Regions from separate parts of the Homo sapiens genome. Here region 1 is linked to region 2. A link means that fine-mapping ties the variant in region 2 to the expression of a gene that starts in the linked region. Tissue or cell type: whole blood. Region 2 holds a variant in brackets; the other region holds the start of a gene. All regions are shown on one strand. Distances are from middle to middle.

What was found. PIP is the estimated chance that this variant, and not a neighbour inherited with it, causes the effect. A credible set is the group of variants that fine-mapping cannot tell apart.
Region 1: it holds the start of CD83, and the variant in region 2 is the best candidate, but not a certain one, in a credible set for the expression of CD83 in whole blood (INTERVAL, PIP 0.52).

Annotation. Positions count from the first base shown.
Region 1 is chr6:14,112,071-14,122,023 of GRCh38, reverse strand. CD83 (CD83 molecule) reads right to left here and starts at 4,252. Exons shown (of 5, transcript NM_004233.4): 1 at 4,176-4,252; 2 at 3,959-4,074. The coding sequence starts at 4,212. RefSeq lists enhancers at 1-79, 100-159, cis regulatory regions at 2,955-3,455, 2,923-3,749, 3,320-3,820, 3,986-4,641, 3,825-4,641 and 1 more and silencers at 4,385-4,504, 4,632-4,926.
Region 2 is chr6:14,088,796-14,098,748 of GRCh38, reverse strand. LOC105374939 (a long non-coding RNA gene) reads right to left here and starts at 115. Exons shown (of 3, transcript XR_926500.3): 1 at 1-115. RefSeq lists enhancers at 3,262-3,391, 4,285-4,414, 9,520-9,953 and a cis regulatory region at 2,913-3,413. The variant C/T (reference allele first, on the strand shown) is at 4,424.

The sequences.
Region 1 (9,953 bases), 23 kb before region 2:
CCATATATCCTCTTTCGTTTTGCATCACCCATAGGCTGTCAGGGCTCCTAGCATGATACAAGAAGGCATTGCAACTCTGGGATAAATGATCACTCATTACTATCTTTAGTGATTATCAACCAGGCCCAAAGTACTCCAACCAAAGTCATCCTCTCTCTCCAAACCTACATTAAAGAGAGTGTAGACACAGCGACGCTTTTCATGAAGTCCACATGCAGCCCTTTAATGCATGGCTTTACTCCTCACAGACATGATATTGTGCTATGCCCTTTTATGCTGGAATTTAATCACAGGTCATGGCCAGTGGAAGAAAAGTCATGGATCAAAGTCTATTTGCATATTTTCTCAAAATACCTCCTCAAAGAACCACATCTATTACAACTTTTTTTTTTTTTTTTTTTTTTTTTGGTAGAGACAGGTCTCACTGCATTGCCCAGGCTGGCCTCAAACTCCTGGGCTCAAGTGATCCTCCCATCTTCGCCTCCCAAAATGCTGGGATTACAGGCATAAGCCTCAGCCACCACACCCAGTCTATTACAACTTTAAAAGATAAATCGATTGGCTCATGCCTGTAATCCTAGCACTTTGGGAGGCTGAAGTGGGAGGATGGCTTGAGCTCAGGAGTTGGAGACCAGCCTGGGCAATGTATTGAAATCTTGTCCCTACAAAAAATTAAAAACATAAAAATTAGCCAGGTGTGGTGGTACGCCCTTGTAGTCTCAGCTACTTGGGAGGCTGAGGTGGGAGGATTACTCGAGCCCAGGAAGTCGAGGCTGCAGTGAGCCATCTTCATGCCACTGTACTCCAGCTTGGGAAACAGGGTGACACTCTGTCTCAAAAAATAAACATAAAGCTAAATTGAGCTACTATCCTAATGAATATAATGTATTAACTTTTCTATTTCTTCTCAATCACCCATTATGCCTTAAAAAGTATAAGGGAGGAAGGGATGAGAAGAGGACCCTTTGTTGGATCCCAGTTAAGAGGACATGGTCCATAGAAGAGAAGAGCTGGGCCAACAGGAATTGGGATATCTCTGTCCACTTTTGGCTTCACCTTTAGCCTCTTGCACATGTGTCTATTAAGTCCCCTCTAGCCCATCTCACTGCATCTTTGAAACAGAGAGAACAGAATGAACACTCTTCCTTCCCAACCCTAATGTTGCAAACAGATTGGATGCTGTCTGTTTTGAGTTTTCTGGTCAAAGGCATATGATAAAAAACACATGGTTTACATGGGTCCTTTTGTTAATTACAAGTATCAGTGCCAAATGGACAAAGGCAAGATGCTACATGGTGCCGGAGGATTGAGTGGTGAATAGAATTTTAAATTGTGAGTCATTATAACCATACTTATGATATGCAGACAGCCTGCAGAATGTGCTTCAATCTGGTGGATGGTGAAAACCCACTGCAAGGGACTCTGCTTTCCTTGCCCAGTATGAAGCCCCCTCCTAAGCTGGCAAAACAGGTTTTACAAAGCCAGGGTAGTGATGATGAAGTGAGTAGGATGGGATAAGCTGGTTCTGGTTACCAAAATGAAATTCCTCCCTTTGTGGCTACCCCTCCACTTTGATGAAACATTTTACAAGAAACTTATAGAAAAATGACCAGATGCTTAACATTCTGTAAAATGAAGTATTTTGGCATTTCACCACTGGCCTTGTCTCCAGAACACTCTATCCATTTTTGTTGTATAAGCATAATCAATGAAAAAGTATAATTATTGGGCTGGAAAATAATAAGTATCTACAGAACATGCTGAGAGCTGTTTTAAAAAAAATGCTTAAAGGAACAATATATGTCACTTTCGAGGCACCTGATTCGTTTATTGGTATAGCATAACTCTCCTACCCACGAATCTCAATCACCATTTACTTCTCAAAAAATAACTACGGTATGACTTTTCATTGGCACTATTCCATGGATCAACAGGAAAAAAAGAACGCCTAGAGACTGCTGTCCCTTTTTTTCTTGACAGAGCTTTCAAAGACCTTGGGGGTAAATCTCGCAAGAATTCTGTCCAATAAACAAGCTCATGCGTTACCGAGTTACGTCACCAGCTGACATCCAAGGAGAAGTCCAAGGTTAATTGCTATGGTTTAGTGGACCATTCCAAATGACCCTGTGCAAGAAGCTTTCACTCCAGAACTGTTTGAACTTCACAGCCTGAAATTTCATCTACTTGTTTCATGAGTACTTTTTAATTACTCCCCTGGGGGTATTAATAATGTTTTCTTTATTAAATAGTTACTCTCTGGAAGGGATAGTGGTTTCATGTTTTTCCCCGTTCTTTGAGATAACTAAGTCCCTGCCTGGTTAGCCCAGGGGCACTTTGATTTTCTTTATCTTAAGTTATTAAGGGAGAAAACAGAGATCAAGATAGACCTCTAACAACTCAGGATTTGGAATCAGACTGCTTCGTTCAAATCCCAACTCCACCATTTAGCTAGCTGTGCAAAAGTGGACAAGTTATTTCCCTCCCTAAGGCTCAGTTTCCTCACCTGTAAAGTAGGAATAGTAACAGTACTAATCCCTAAGTCCATTCTTCCGATGGATGGAAATGGATAATGTATGTAAATATTTACCTTGGAGCTTGGCACGTGGTGAGCATTCAAAAATTGTTTTTACAATATTTTTAAAAATACTATTGTTTTGACTATGAGAACAATTTCGGAATTGTTGTGTTCTCTGATCCCACAGTAAGTAAGGTACCAATGAAGTAGGAATATTTAACACCTTACTTTTATACACAATACAATGCTCTGAGGCAGCAGCACCATCCCCGTCATGCATAACTCATGAAGTGCTGGGCTGAATTCACAGAGCACCTTTGCAATTTATAGGGCAAAAATTAGGTGCCGTGAAGAATACACAGAAGTATGGATACAGCCACTGCCCCCCAGGGAACTGACCATCCAGTTAGGAGACACACACACAAAGAGATCACCGCAATGATGCCTTGTACTGTTAAGTGGCCAAAGACGTACAGTTTCTTATAGTATCTTTTATGGTGGGCAGAAGAACGCCCTGCATTTTGGGGAAAGCTACAAGTGCAGAGATTTGCCCCCGTGGTAAGACAGCAAATCAGTGAGAGCTACAGAGTAAGGTTGTAATATCATATTCATTTGGGTTAAAATGGAGGTGCTGTGGTAGCAGTGGCCTGACTTAAAGAAGGACCAGTGATATCAAACAGTAGCTGCTTGGCTTTGGAATGACACCATCATTGCCATCTTAGAATCTGAGAATGTTTCAGTCAAGAGGAAACCTTGAAAAAGCCTCCTTGTCACTCAGTCCACTTACAGTAGGAGCAGCAAGGCCTGTTCTTACACATGCGGGCTCCGGCTCATGCATCCACCTGATGCTCTCAAGGCTGCCAGAGGAAGGAGGAGGAGGGCTAGGGGAGGAAGCCAAGGGTATCCCACAAAGGAGATGACCACTGATAACTACCATGGATGAAATGGCCTAAGTCACTTCTGTGTCTTAGCCTTTCCTTTCAAATTGCCCCCTCCCCCTCCCATGTATCATGGGCATCACAGTCACAAAACACAAGAAATCAGAAGTCTGGAGACATTCCCCCTGTCCAATGCCCAAATCTAGGTCCCTGTTGCTTTCTTCCTGACCTGCTGGCCCACAACCACAGGTGGCCTCCAGAATTAATCCAAATGAGAGTCTCTGCCCTTCCAAAACATCTTAAGTGGATCATTCATCTCAGGCCACCTTCAGTGACAGGAAGGGGATTGAGGTCTGCGGAGAGCAAAACCTAATTCGGCCCTGTACCTGGATGCGGATGGGGTGGGGGAGGCGCGACGGGAGGCTGGGTACTCCAAGTTCAGCTGCGGGAGACGCCCCTCGCCCCCACCTGGCAGCCACAGAGGGTCGCCAGCCTAGGGGAGATGGTTCCTGCTGTCTTCAAATGAGCCCACCAAACCCCAGCCCGTGGGTATCGCAGCACCTACCTTGACCCAGGAGACCGTGTAGGGAACCTGCGGATCCCAGGGGGCGGTGCAGGGCAAGTCCACATCTTCGGAGCAAGCCACCTTCACCTCCGGCGTCGCGGGAGCCAGGCTGTAGGCTACAAGAAAGAGAGAGCGCGTCGTGAGCAAGCGACCGACGGGAGGGGGTGTCGTGGAGGGGCGGGGGGCGACAGGCGAGACAGGCGCTCGCGAGCCCTACCGCAGCTCAGGAGCAGAAGCTGGAGGCCGCGCGACATGGCTGGAGCGCTGCGCCGCTGCCACGAGCTGCAGAGCTGTGGCGCGCGGGCGCCGGCTGCCCTTTTATGCCCGCGCGTTCGGGAACTTCCCTGCGCGCCAGCCCGGGGGATTCCCCGGCGGGCAGCGGAAGCGGGTGGCGCGCCCTCCTAGTCCCGCTTAGGCCGGGGCGCCCCCGTCCCCGCCCCCTTCGCCCCCGTCCCCGCCCCCGTCCCCGCCCCCGTCGCACCCGCCGCCCTCGCCGCGTGCGCGTCCCCGCCCCCGCGCGCCCGGGCCGGGCGCCCCGAGTTCGCGTCGCTGCTGCGGCTGGCAGCGGCGACAGCAATCCCCGCGTGACGCCCAGCGCTGGGGGCTTTGCAGACCGCGCTCGCGCGCGTGACGCTGCCGTTGACCCGCAAAAGGAAGCCGGGAACCGGGCCATCCGAGCGGGATCTGCCCATTTTACGGAGGCCAAACCAGATTCCGAGAGGGTGGGCAACTTCCTCAGAAGCCCAGCCTGTCCTTGGGAACGCACTGGTGAACCCAAGTCCTCACTCTTCTCCAGAATCTGTGATAATCAAAGGCGCGTTAGATTTCCATGGAAACATACAAGTCTGTAGTACTTGGCTCCCTGCCTTCCCCGGGAGGTTATCAGTCAGTACCGTCCTGTTTAAATTATATCACCAAAGGAGAGTGTCTCCTATTAAAATAATAATTACACGCATACACAACATTTTTGGAAAAGAAAATTCTAGAAGACAATGAAATCACCTGTAATTCATCCAGGAAGTAACTTCAGTTAACATTTTTTTATATTATAAAATGTTTATAACATAACATAACGTAAAATATTTATAACATTTGTCAGTGCACAGATTGGTATTTTTAATGGTTTATTCTTCCTGCTATCTTGTAACCTACTTTCTTTTAGCTTAATAATTTGCAAGCGGTTCCACATCATTAAAAACTTCCAACAGCATCATTTTGGTCCATTGTTCAGTTGCACCATAAATTAGAATCGATTAGTGTTAGACATACAGGTTGTTTCTTTTTGTATTACTAATATTAGAAACAATACTGTGATTGCTATGGGAAACTTCAGTGTAGATAAATCTTTGCTCTAAAATTGCTTATTTTCTTAGAATAAATACCTCAAGGAAATTGTGCTAGGTGAAGGGGAGTTTCCAATTTTGTCAAATATTGCCAAAAAATTACCTGCAAGGAGGTGTCTTCAATCTATATTCCCATCTGCAAAGAGAGTGCCTGTTTGCCAACACAAACTGTTATCCAACCTTTCTATCTTTGTCCATCCAAGAGGTTAAAAAGAGTGGCATCACTATACCACCAGTTCTAATCTGCTCTTGGAAGTAGTTATATCAATTGACAGTCCCGCCAGCTTGTGTGAGTACCTTTTCTCCAGCAGCCTCACCAAATTAATTTTTTAATTGTGAAAATGTTAAGCATACAAAATAAGTATAGAAAATATGGAATTGAACACATCTGTATACAATTTATTCTTGAGAAATAAAACAGTACTAACATTTTCGAGACCCTCTTTTTTTTTTTTTTTTTTTTTTTTTGAGACGGAGTCTCGATCTGTCTCCCAGGCTGGAGTGCAGTGGCCGTGATCTGAGCTTACTGCAAGCTCCGCCTCCCGGGTTCACGCCATTCTCCTGCCTCAGCCTCCCGAGTAGCTGGGACTACAGGAGCCCGCCACCACGCCCGACTAATTTTTTTGTGTGTGTATTTTTAGACGGGGTTTCACCGTGTTAGCCAGGATGGTCTTTTGAGACCCACTATGTGTCCTCTGCCAGATCTCATACCTAGCCATTTATGCTTCTTTTCAGTTTTTCCTGATTATAAACAATGTTGCAGGGGAGCTGAAAGTCTTCCAACACTCTAGCTCAGTAATTACACTGCATTGTTAAATATTGCCGTCTTATTATCCAAAATGCACATGCCCATTTACACTCCCCTCAGCAGGTCTTAGCATGATCAGATTTTTTTCTTTAAAGATAGGGTCTCACTATGTTGCTCAGGCTGGTCTCAAATTCCTGGGCTCAAGAGATCCTCCTACCTTGGCCTCCCAAGGTACTGGGATTACAGGTGTGAGCCACGTGCCCAGCCAGATCTTTTTAAATTTCTGCCTATCTAATGAGTGTGAAATATTAGATCCTTTTTGCTTAATTTATGTTACATTGATAACATATGCTTCAAGAACATTGGATATTTCTGAGCATTGTCATTCATATCCTTTGGCCTTTTCCATGAGCGCTGTTTATAAAATCTGGGCCAAATCCTTTCTTGGTTATATCCATGCCAAATCTCTTCTCCAAGTTTAAGATTTGTATTTTCCATTTTGTTTATGATATCTTTAATTTACCAAAGAGTTTTTAAAAAATATTTTCATGTGGTCAAATTTACTGATCTTTTGGTTTATGATTTGTGCTTCTGGTATTGTGTTTAAGAAATCTTTTCCTGACCTGAGATCATAAAAACATTCTCCTTCATTTCCTTCCAAAACTTTTAAAGTCATGCTTTTTCATATGTTGGTCTTTAATCCATTTAAATATGGTTTGATGTCGTGATCTAACTTATTTTTTCCATATGGATAACCATTTTTTCCAATGCTGCTTGCTAAAAGTCCTTCTTTCCCTACTGATTTAAAATGACATCTGTGCTTTATACAAATTTCTACATATGAGTGGGCCTGTTTCTAGACTCTATTCTGCCTCTCTTTGTGCTAATATCACACTTTCTTATTACTATAATTTAATTAAGTCTTGCTGTGGTGGAAGTGAGTCCTCACATGTTGAACTTCGTCTTCAAAATCGTTCTGGTGGCTGGGTGCAGTGGCTCACGCCTGTAATCCCAGCACTTTGGAAGGCCCAGGTGGACGGATCACTTGAGATTAGGAGTTCAAGACTGGCCTGGGCAACATGGTGAACCTGGTCTTTACTAAAAATGCAAAAAAATAACAAATACAGAAAATAGCCGGGCATGGTGGCTTGCACCTGTGGTCCCAGCTACTCAGGAGGCTGAGGCAGGAGGATCGCTTAAGCCCAGGAGGTCCACGCTGCAGTGAGCCGAGATTGTGCCACTGCACTCCAGACTGGGTGACAGAGCAAGACTGTGTATCCAAAAAAAAAAAAAATGTTCTGGCATTCTTGGTTCTTTGTTCTACCTTATACATATTATATCAATTTGTGAACCTCAAAAAACTTGATTTGAATTTTAGTAGGAATATATTCAATTTATAAATCTCCTAAAATCAACATCTTTAGAAGTCAGTTCTACAAATTCATCCCATATTGTGTATCTTTCCATTTATTTAGGTCTTCAAGAATTTTTAAAATTATATATATATAGGTTTTTCACATCTTTTGATAGATTTCTTCCTGGATACCTTCACATTGTGTTGCTACTTTCACATATATATTTTTTAAACTCTATTTTTCTAGGTGTCCATAGCCAGTGAGTAGAAATTTCCTTTCTTATTAATGTTAACAATGTGTTCTTAGACTCTCCATTAAGTCACTTGTTGAATTATGAATTATTTAGAGGGTTTTTTTAAAAAAATTTCCCAATATATGGCTTGCTTTTCATTTTGCTACTGGTGTCTAACAGTTGAGGTTGCTCAAGAACAGTCTGTATGATTCTTTGTTGCAATATCAAGGATTGCTTTGTAGCCTCATATGTGATCTTTTGGTAAGAGTGGCATGTACTCGGAAAGAAAGATCTTTTTGATTTTGCTCATGGTGTTGCTCAGATCTTCTATATCCCTTCTGTAATCATGAACTATCAATTATTGAAAGAGATGTGTTAAATTCTCTCCCATGACTACAGAATTGTCTGTTTATCTCTGAAATTTTATCATTTTTTTGGCTTGGTATAATTTGATGCTATGTTTTAGTGTCTGGAAGTTATGTTTTTCCAATGAATTGTTCCTTTTTCTCTTCATTTATTTGACTTTTTTTTTTTTTTTTTTTTTTTTGAGACGGAGTCTCGCTCTGTCGCCCAGGCTGGAGTGCAGTGGCGGGATCTCGGCTCACTGCAACCTCCACCTCCCAGGTTAAGCAATTCTCTGCCTCAGCCTCCCAAGTAGCTGGAATTACAGGCACCCGTCACCATGCCTGGCTAATTCTTGTATTTTTAGTAGAGATGGGATTTCACCATGTTGGTAGGCTGATCTCGAACTCCTAACCTCATGATCCGCCCACCTCAGCCTCCCAAAGTGCTGGGATTACAGGCGTGAACCATCATGCCCAGCCTGTTTACTCTTAATATTACCATCCTCTGCCTCTTCTTTTCTCTGGGTTAATTTCTTGCTGGCGTTTTCAATACTTTTACATTCAACATTTCTTTTTCCTTACATTCTATTGTGTCCTTTTTAAAGTATATTGTTAGATTTTCTTCTATCCAGTATGACTGACAATCTATCTTGCTAACTGAGGGTTTAATTTTATTACTTTGTGAATTCTGCTACATTAGGATTTATTTTGGTCATTTTGTTTTACGCTTTATGCTTAACCAGATTTTTCTCTGCCTCTTCCTTTCTTGCATCTTTTTATTGACCATTAATAAAAATATTTTAGCCCGGGCATGGTGGCTTATGCCTGTAATCCCAGCACTTTGGGAGGCCGAGGCGGGTGGGTCACATGAGGTCAGGAGTTTGAAACTAGCCTGAACAACATAGTAAAACCCATCTCTACTATAAATAAATAAATAAATAAATTTAGCTGGGTGTGGTGGTGCGTGCCTGTAATCCCAGCTACTCAGGAGGCTGAGGCATGAGAATCACTTGAACCCAGGAGGCGGAGGTTGCAGTGAGCCGAGATTGTACCACTGCACTCCAGCCTGGGCAACAGAGCCAGACTTGGTCTCAAAAAATAAAATAAAAATAGAAATATATATTCTGTGGTGTTCTCTCTACTGGTTTGGAAGTCATGCATACTATTTCTCTTCTTATGTGATTAACTTTTTATAATTTTTCATAAGCATACTCGATTTAATAAATTCTAGAGTTAATTAATATTGCCACCCTTTGCCCTAAAATGCCCAAATGCCCGAACTCTGCCCATCTCATCTACTATTATGACCAGTACCCTTGTTCCACTATGTTTTTATACTCCCCAAGTAGTCTTTTTTTACATATTAGATATTTGTTGAAATTTATCTCATATTGTACATCTCACTGCTTCTTTCTTGGTTCAATTCCTTCTGAAGTATATTGTTAATTCTTTTAGCAAAGGTCTTCAAGTGGAAAATGCTCTCTGTTTTTGTGTGAAAGTGTTTATTTTGCCCATATCCTTGAATCATAGTGTAGTTGTAAGTTGACGGTTATTCCTTCTCAGCACTTGAACATATTATTCCATTGGTCTTCTGGCTTCTGTTGTTGCTGTTGCAAAGTTCCAGACAACCTGATAACTCATTCCTTTGTAGGCAATGCTTTTGTCTTTGAGAATTTCTAAGATCTTGGCCTTTCTACTTGGTCTTTTTTTTTTTTTTTTTTTTTTTTTGAGATGGAATCTTGCTCTGTTGCCTAGGCTGGAGTGTAGTGGTGTGATCTCGGCTCACTGCAACCTCTGCCTCCCGGGTTCAAGCGATTCTGGTGCCTCAGCCTCCTGAGTAGCTGGGACTACAGGCACGTGCCACCATGCCCAGCTAATTTTTTTGTGTGTTTTTAGTAGAGATGGGGTTTCGCCATGTTGGCCAGGCTGTTCTCGAACTCCTGACTTCAGGTGATCCGCCCGCCTCAGCCTCC
Region 2 (9,953 bases):
AAAGGCTCTCTGGTACATTGCAGGTGGGACTGTGATACGGCACAACCCCTGTGGAGATGAACTCAGCAACATCTAACAAAACCACGTATGCATGTACCCTTCCACTCAGCAATTCCACTTCTGTAAATTTGCCCCAAATATATCCCTTCCACTACGTAAAAATACAAATGCCCAAGGTTATTCATTGCAGCAATTTTTTATAATTGCAAAATATTGGAAGCTACCTAAATGCCTAAGTATAGAGTACTTGAATAAAATATGGTACACACATGCAATGAGGTACTAAGCAGATATAAAAAGTATGCGGAAGATCCCTGTGAAATGATATGGAATGATTTCCAGGAGACGCTGTTAAGTGAAAAGGCAAGGTACAAAAGAGTATATAGAGTGGGATATCTTTTGTGAAGAAAGAAGGGAAATAATGAGACTTGAGTATTCTTTTTTTTGGGGGGGAGACGGAGTCTCGCTCTGTCGCCCAGGCTGGAGTGCAGTGGCGCGATCTCGGCTCAATGCAAGTTCCGCCTCCCGGGTTCACACCATTCTCCTGCCTCAGCCTCCCGAGTAGCTGGAACTACAGGCGCCCACCACCATGCCCAGCTAATTTTTTGTTTTTGTATTTTTAGTAGAGACAGGGTTTCACCGTGTTAGCTAGGATGGTCTCGATCTCCTGACCTCGTGATCCACCCATATTGTCTCTACAAAGACAAGCTTCTTGAGCTTCTCTCTACAAAAAGAAACATGGGAAGAAAAATCCAAAAAATCTTGTAGTTGTTTTCCTCTAAGGAGTATGAGGGAATAGGATGGAAAAAGCACGCTTTTCTTTTTAATTCCCTCCCTCCCTCCCTCCCTCCCTCCCTCCCTTCCTTCCTTCCTTCCTTCCTTCCTTCCTTCCTTCCTTCCTTCCTCTCTCTCTCTCTCTCTCTCTCTCTTTCTTTCTTTCTTTCGACAGAGTTTCACTTTTATTGCCCAGACTGGAGTGCAGTGGTAGATCTTGGCTCACTGCAACCTCTGCCTCCCAGGTTCAAGCAATTCTCCTGCCTCAGCCTCCCGAGTAGCCGGGATTACAGGCACTGGCCACCACACCCAGCTAATTTTTGTACTTTTAGTAGAGATGAGGTTTCACCATGTTGGCCAGGCTAGTCTCGAACTCCTGACCTCAGGTGATCTGCCTGCCTCGGCCTCCCAAAGTGCTGGGATTACAGGCATGAGCCACTGGGCCCAGCCTGAGCATGCTTTTCTATATTGTTTTGACTTTTGAAAGCATGTTCACATTCTACCTGGCAAACAATAAAATTAAATCAGTAATGAAGCTTAACACCCAGTACCTATTTGCCATTCTTTGGGCAACCATGCCCTGCTTTTTTGGGGGGAAAGCACGCATCCCACATCCTTTTCCCATGTGTGTTTCATGGGCCCCACCCATATGTGGGGTGGGCATGTGACAGTCCTGTCCATTCGGAGTACCACATTTCTCTGGCCATGGGGCCTGGCCTAGGGGTGGGCGCTTAACACAACTGAGTCAGTGATTTTTCATAGCCTTTAGCTGCCACTGTTAGAGGCCATCTTCCTCTTTTTCCTTGCACTAGCATCTGGGAGGTAGTAGACCTGGAGTAACCAGCAGCCCTCTTGGCATCATGTGGAGCCTTGAAATGAAGCCGAAATGGAAGGAAGAGAGCAATGCTAAGAGGGGAACAGACCAGTTCCTGAAATATTGTTCAAGCCCCTGGATCAAGCCCCTGCCCTTTTTAATGAATTGCATGAACTAATTATTTCAAGTTCTTGCCTATGCCTGCTTGAGTTAGGTTTTCTGTAACATGCATTCAAACCATCTCAATGGATACATTAGTTCAAATCTCTCTATTATTGGTGTGGAATCTGAGTCTCAGTAGAGTGAAAGCACAAGCCCAAAAATCATGCTGGAAGATAATAGCAAGGGCGGCGCTAAGACTCAGAACCTCTGGCTCCAAGTTCAGATTACACAGTCAGTGTGGCAGACGGCCTTCACCTAGGGGACAACTTATGTTCCAGGTGGAAGAGAAAGAGACAGAAAGCAAGCTAAGCCCCCTCGTATGGCCTAATATGTCCCAGACCTCCAGACTCAGGGTTTATGAGAGTTGAACGAAGTTTCTGTTATTACAGGTATCAGCCATCAAGATGTGCACAGAGAAAACTCAGCAACTGGGAAATCAGCTGCATGGTAGCAAGATACACAGACTTGGAGTCAGAAGATGTGGGCCCAGACCCTGATATCCACCCACTCTTGTGGGTGGGCGCCTTCTGAATGTGAAGGGAGGCTAATAATAGTGCTCCTGGGAGTCCAAAGACTGATGCTTTGGAGAGGCCTCTGTAAGCCAGCATCCTCCTCCAGCAGTGCTCAGGCCTGGAAACAATCCACAGGCTGTTTAAATGGCCATCACAGAGGTTTTTTTCAAGGCAGAATTCTGCCTTCTCTTGACAACAAACAAGCAAGACTTGAGAACACCTGGGGAGAACTGTGACCTACATGCCTTTTTGTCCAGGCAGGAGAGGCTGACGCGCCCTCAGTTCTCCTTCACCCACCCCTACCCAGTGCAGCTAGAAACCTGGGGGTGTGTTCCAATGGCCATTTAGGGTCCGACACTGCCATGGGCCTCACACAAGAGAACTCTTGCTCTGCAGCCAGCTGTCTTCCAAAGCAGGGAAGCAAAGGATTCACCCAGAGGGCCATGCGAACTTCCCGCCCTGGCTTCCAAGCTGGTCACCCGCCTCACTCAGCACATGACCGCCTGGTCCAGGGGAGGCCTCTGAATTCACAGGCATAACTGTAAATGCAAATTCCCATGTAAAGCTCATGGATGAAAGGAAGGAAATGAGAATTAGGACTCAAGTTCTGTTGGGTGAAATGTAAAACCTGGGTATCTACTCTGATAAGATTAAAGTGAGTAATTGGCAGGTGGACCAGTGGTGAGCTTCAGGGATCAAGAACACAGGGAAGCAAGTTTAGAGGCCAAAAAGGCAGCCACTGGGTGCTAAGCAGGGGAGAACTAGTGATGTTGACTGCCTATGGCCGGGTGAGGGCCGAGGACGAGCCTCCCAATGCTGGGCACAGGTACAGCTGCTGACGTTGACCACTAGGTACAGGAAACCAGGCAGACCTTTACAAAGGCTGGGCAACATCCTGGTGAGCTCCCATGTGGAACCCACAAGAAGCCACGTTTAGTCTCACAACATTTATGGGGAAATTCCCCTGAATTGACGTTTAAGCTTTAATAGAGGAAATCAACATTCTCAGTAAATCTGGTAAAAGGTCTATGGAAACTTTGTTAAATTTCAGCCAGAGACACCCCCAATGGCTGGTCCAGCCAGTGCTGTCCATTATGCAGCTCATTCCATACAAAGTCCTTGTTCTCAAACTTGGCTAAGGCCTCCTATGAGAGAACACCTTCTACACCAGAAGGTATAATTAGATGCCCTATGGTAGCTTTTAGCCCATGTTTTGAAAATCAGCGAGGTGCCTGAGCTGAGGTGGCTGGCGGATGTGCATTGAGGAGATAGGCTGACATGGGGTGTGTTCATTAAGTTATTCAACAAGCATTCATTTACTGGGTATATAGAGTTTCCAAGCCATCATGCTTAACACCGTGGAGCCCAGAGCAATGGATAAAATGGAGCAAGTCCATTTTGCTCCCCATGGAGCATGTCAGAGGCCAGTTGGGGCCAAGTGTGTGTCTGGGAGCAGGAGGGCAATGGCAATCGGGATGCCTGTGAGATTTCCTGCTGTACTTCCTTGGTGGGGCCAGACCAGAGAATGTTGCCTATTGAAAAACATTTCTTTGTAAGGGCTTTGTAAGCAGACATCTCCAGCTGGGAGCAACTGAGGAATTTTTTAATCAGAGCCTTGATCTGCTCTTGCGGCACTGCCTGAGGCTAGCAGTGTCCCTATAACACCAAACTGAATTCTAAAAAGAAAAAAAATCAACTGATTGCTTCCAAATACTGGGATGCTTATGGGGGCATGTGTGTGTGTGTGTGCGTGCGTGTGTGTGTGTGTGCCACCATGCCCGGCAAACTTTTTTTGTATTTTCAGTAGAGACAGGGTTTTGTCACGTGGACCAGGCTGGTCTCAAACTCCTGACCTCAGGTGATCCGCCTGCCTCGGCCTCCCAAAGTGCTGGGATTACAGGCGTGAGCCACCGGACTCAGCCAGGGCTCTGTTGTTATCCCCACATCATGCCCTTCAAGTATGCCATGCTGCCGGATGTCAGGAACCAGGCTCCAAGGGGTGGTGTCTTGGCATGACTTAGACAACCAGAGACAACAACCCCAAAACAGACCTCTGGCCTTTCTCTCCTCCTCCATCTGCCTCCTGCCAGAGAAACCAAAAGAAGAACTTACTTATAAAGGCAGTCATGGGTCTTTTCACTTGTGGCACTGTGATGCCTGG[C/T]CACTGTGGGGTTTTGGAAAGGGAAGTAGCACTGACATCATAGAAACCTAGAACTGAAAAAGACCTGAAATGTTCATCTTGTCCAGGCACCTCAGTGAGACAAGACACAGCTCCCTCTCCTTGCAGCTCTCCCTGAAGATGCAGAAATAGTACTCTACCTCCTTCAGTTCTTGCTGCCAGGGCTTTATCTCCCAAAGAGGGAAGATTTTTCTCGCAACTTGAGTTCTCATTTAACTCCAGTCTACTGTCTTTTTTTTTTCAGCCAGGAGGGTCCACTAGTCAGCATTAGGCCCCTCACAAACTTGCAAACTCAAAGATAGTGGTGGAAGTGACTATTAGTCTTTTCATTTCAGGCCAGCTAAACACAATTATCTCCACCTACATTCTTCACTTGGTTCCTGTACTGTGCAGGTTTTGTTGTTGTTGTTTTTTTAATCTATACTGTTTGCAATTTTTCCACTATTTTTTTCAAAAATGTGACTGGGGTACATTGAATTTTTGTTTCCCATTCTTCACTCTCTCTCTGTTACAGAATTCTACACCCGTGACCTTTGCCATGTGACTTTGCAGTGGCTCTCACTAGAATGAGTGCAGTGTTTTTCCTCACCCCATGGAAGCTTGGCTCAGCCACAGGCTTTGCCTTGAATAACAGACGCTAGTGGAAATGATGTAAAAGAGGCTTTAAATGTGCTTGCATGATTTGACTTGGCCTGTTGTATTTCCGCCATCACCGTAAGAAGACTATGCCCCAGGTGGTGCCAGTTCCAGAACAAAATATATAAAGCAGGCCCAAAGTAGACCTGGAGCCTGGAGCCATGCCCAGTGGAGCCCAGCCAAGATCAGCTGAGTCCCTGCCAATCCACAGACCTGTGAATAAAAAAATGAATGTTTGTGGCGTCAGCCAGTGAGACTTGGGGCATTATTTGTTATACATTATTGCGGTAGTTGATGACTAATAAAATTGCCAAAATAAGGTCTGATTTAGACTAGAGATGAATTATTACCCTATCCTTGCATCACACACTCCTCAAACCACCTCTTTTGTGACACCTTCCTTGGTTCCTTTAGCTTCTCTACAACTTGTCCACCCTAAATCCTTCTTTTTGGTGTCCTATATTTGGGCCCCTGATCATAGTCAATAAAACGTTTTCTAGAAGTCAGTCTGACATATTACTCAATACTTGCATGTTTGAAACCTTATCAACAAGACTATAAAGTCATTGAGAACAGGGACCATGCGAGTACAGGATGGATAATAAAATACTCTTATTAGGAACATTCTGTACCGTGATCTCTCATCTTTGGCAGAATAAGGCTTCCAGATGTTAGCTGGAAACACATCACCATTGCATTCATGGAATTAGCATAAGGCTATGCACACAGTAGACATAAGACGCATTCGAATATTTATGGAGTGTCCATTGGAGAAGCAAAAGTAACTGAGTTGTCAATCAAATAAATATTTCTGATCTATTAATACTCAATGTCATATGCCTTATCTTTTTTGATAAAGATAATATTCAAATTCTCAATTCCATAGATATTGAATATAAGCATTTCTCTTTCCCAGCCAAAATACATCAATAGAAATAAGTGAGAGATAGTGAAGCCACCTATTTAAAAGGCCTGTGAATCGCTTCTCAGCCTTTGGCGAAGATTAAGTTTAAAAGGACTATGAAGCAAAACCTTGTGTAAAGCTAATGTTTACTTCCTATTTTACAGTGCTCTGTTTCATTTTTATTAATAAAATACACTTTTGTGTATGACAGCTGATCATATTTGATTTTCATATTCTCTATTTAAGACCAGAGAATATTCTTCAGAACCACATTTTTTTTCCCACAGTTTAGTTTCAAATGTAGTATAGTTCCTCTTTTTATAAAACAAGTCAGGAAGGTTTGTTTTATATTAAAGCATTCAATGAAAGGGTGTTTTTTTTTTTTTAAATACAAATCTACTTTTCATATACTGGAACTTTCCAGATGACTGGTCAGATTACTACAATCGCATGTTATATTGATCTGGAGTTCAAAAAAACACCAAAAGAACAATGGGATAAGCCTGCTTTCCTTCCAAGTATGGGCATAGCTATCAAAGCACCACAACTGATTTTGCAATATTCCAGAAATTATACGTCAAAGTGAATCTTGTTCCTTCAAATCAGCCACCTTATTCATTTATTCCAAAGAATTGCCAGTGGTCAAAACTGTGCTGAAAATCTTTTTATGATTTCCTTCAAAGCCATTTAAAAAAATATATTATTAAAGGCAGCAACTCTTTGTCCTTTGGGAATGAATACGATTTTGGAAACAGAAAAAGTCATTTGGGAACAAATTTAGTGAAAAGAGCAATCAAACTGGGTGATATAAGGAAGAAATTCAGATTTGTCCATCATCTCACAGCCCAGAGATAACCACCATGAATATCTTGGCATATTTTATGCTAGTAAGTCTCTATGTATATATTTTAACATAAATAGGATGATGTCACGTGTGCAGATTTGCATCTCCCCTTTTTCTCCCCAGTCAATATTCCCATTATTCCTATTTTACAAGGATCAGACAAGCTAAGTAACAAGCAAACAGTCATACTTCAGAAAGTGTTCTAACTTCCAACTTCTTTCAAAATGCATTGAGGCTGAAAAAAGGAGAACAGTTATACCAAAAAAAAAAAAAAGCCTGATTTTCTATTCCCTATTCCTTGGTGATAATAGCAAGAATAGTACTTAGTTATAACACCACAATGCATGACACATGAGAGAGAAACCAAGAGTGAGAGAAAAGAAAATTATGTGGTTCCAACAGAAAATAAAGAGAATGAGATGCCTTGCCCAAGTCAATCATTTATGTAGACAACGTGTGTGTGCGCCTGCATGTGTGTGTGTGTGAACACACCTTTTATTACAAGTCACAAAAGTTTATTACCCAGTCAATGCTCGGCTATGGAGTAACATCTCTTGAAATTGAAGAAGCACTACTTAAGGCAGGACCAGAGATGATGGAATGGGTGTTTGACATGTATCAGATCTTTTCAGAAACTGAGAGGGGTCGTACTGTTTATACATGCTTTCTAGGCACACAGAAACCTAAGTCTGTTTCCCAAACTCCAAGGCTGCACAGTCAGTGAGTTCAGCGTAGCCTCTCACCACTGTGTTGGACCTCTGTGGATCCAGTTTTGGGAGCGGGGTGGGTGTGGATTTTGTCTCAAACTCTCTCTATCTGGAATGTGTTCTGTAGTCTTAAAAACAAGAGCTGAATATGCTCAATCTCCACTTTGCCCCCCAAACTGAGGCCATCTCCCCAACACCCAACAGAAGATCCTGTTAGAAATTCTCGATTTGGTCCCACACAAGTTACTGCAATCTTCCTACTAGGGTTGAGATGCCAGAAGATCCCTGTTAGGGACTGAAAGTTTGTGTCTCTCCCCTTGCCACCAAATTCATGTATCAATATGTATTAGGAGGTGGGGCCTTTGGGAAGCGATTAGGTCATGAAGGGGAAGCCCTCATGAATGAGATCAATACCCTTCTAAAAGAGGCCAGAGAGCACACTCTTGCTGCTTCTACCATGTGAGGACATAGTGAGAGGATGCCATCTATAAACCTGGAAGAAGGTCCTCACCGGGTACTGAATTTGCCAGCACCTTGATCTTGGACTTCCCAGCCTCCAGAACTGTGAGCAACGATGTCATTTATAAGCCACCCAGTCTCTAGTATTTCTGTTATAGCAGCTCGAACTAAAACTATCCCTATTTTGCCCTTTTCTGCTTAAAACTTGCTTTTTTTGTAGAGCCAGTTTAGCCTAGAGGAGAAAGTTTCAGCTTTTGAATCCTACAAATTCTCCTTTTTCCACTTCTTCACTAAGTCAAGGTTGGAGAGTGACTTCATCTGCCTCAAAATGAACTTTCTCACCTGCGATAAATATGAAGGTATCAGGACATAAAATTATCTCATAAACCACACATTTGGGAACACTCCATAAAGCCAAATCACCCCAGTTGAACCCAGAAACAGTTCCACGGATTGAGAGAAGAGACTGATAAGAATCAAGAGAGTTAATCATTGCAATATGGTTCCAGAAAAAGCGCTGCCTCCTGCTCCTCTCCACCCCATCTTGGGCCAAGCCAACTGAGAAAAGGATGACTGATAGGAACCCCAATAGCTTTAAAGACCCAAGAACATGTGTGAAACCTTCGAAGACCATAAGACCTCAAAGTCCCTTGAGCCCAGCATGGTGGGAAGCAATAGAGCAGAAATTGCTAGGTGGCATAGCAAGGCAGAAAGGGACTGGGCCAACACAGCCAGATATTGTCCCTGCTCCCCAGAAGGGCAAAGGAGTGACGAAGAGAGCCAGATCCACAGGGCCTCATCAGGATGAGGTGGGGGCAGCGGTAGTACTACACACATGGATGACTGGAGGCCAGGCAGGAGAGAGGACGCACAGGACCACGCCGGCACCGACAGGTGATAACCACGCCACGCCCCGCCCCACCACCTCCACCCTTGCGGGGAAAAAGATTAGATTTCTGGGCTGGGCGCGGTGGCTCACGCCTGTAATCCCAGCACTTTGGGAGGCCGAGGCGGGCGGATCACGAGGTCAAGAGACTGAGACCATCCTGGCTAACACGGTGAAACCCCGTCCCTACTAAAAATACAAAAAATTAGCCGGGCGTGGTGGCGGGCGCCTGTAGTTCCAGCTACTCGGAAGGCTGAGGCAGGAGAATGGTGTGATCCCAGGAGGCGGAGCTTGCAGTGAGCCGAGACCGAGCCACTGCACTCTAGCCTGGGTGACAGAGCGGGACTCCGTCTCAAAAAAAAAAAAAAAAAATTAGATTTCTGAAACGCTTTGGAATGAGAGCACTAAACAGAAACTGAAATAGAAATTAAGTTTAGTCATAGAAAGTTACATTTGTTGCAGTCCAATATGGGTACTCATTACATGAATATATGTAAAGTAACTGTGCACGTGGCAGTTGCACAATAAATTCCAAGCATTATTATGATGACTATTGACCAGTTATATTTCTGTCCACCTTCTCTTTCCAGAGAAGTTGAGGCAACCTTGAGTGCTGAAATAAGGGCAGAGCATCCCTAGCATAATAAATGTTGGAGAACTATTTTATGTTTCTTTATATGAGTGATTGAGGGATCACTGTACTCCACCTTCTCCCATCTATTGTAGATTATATTATTCTTCAGTCAGTCTTCATGTTCCTGGTCCACCCTCCTGAATGGAGTACATCTCCCCATCCCTTGACCTTGGGCTGGGCCATAGGATGTGCGTTGACTGAAGAATGGGGTGTGGCACAATGGTGGCATGCCAGCACAAAGAGAGACTCAGAGGCATTATGTCTTTTCGCTTCCTGTCTGGCACTCCTGCTACTCTCCATAAGAAAAGGATGCCCCAGGCGGCCACTGCTTCTTCAGCCTGGGTCTCAGAATGAAAAACACACAAAGCAGACTTGAATCTGACCTGAAGCTTACAACCAAACCCCATCAAGTCTAGAGGAAGCCAAAAAGTTTAGGTGAGAC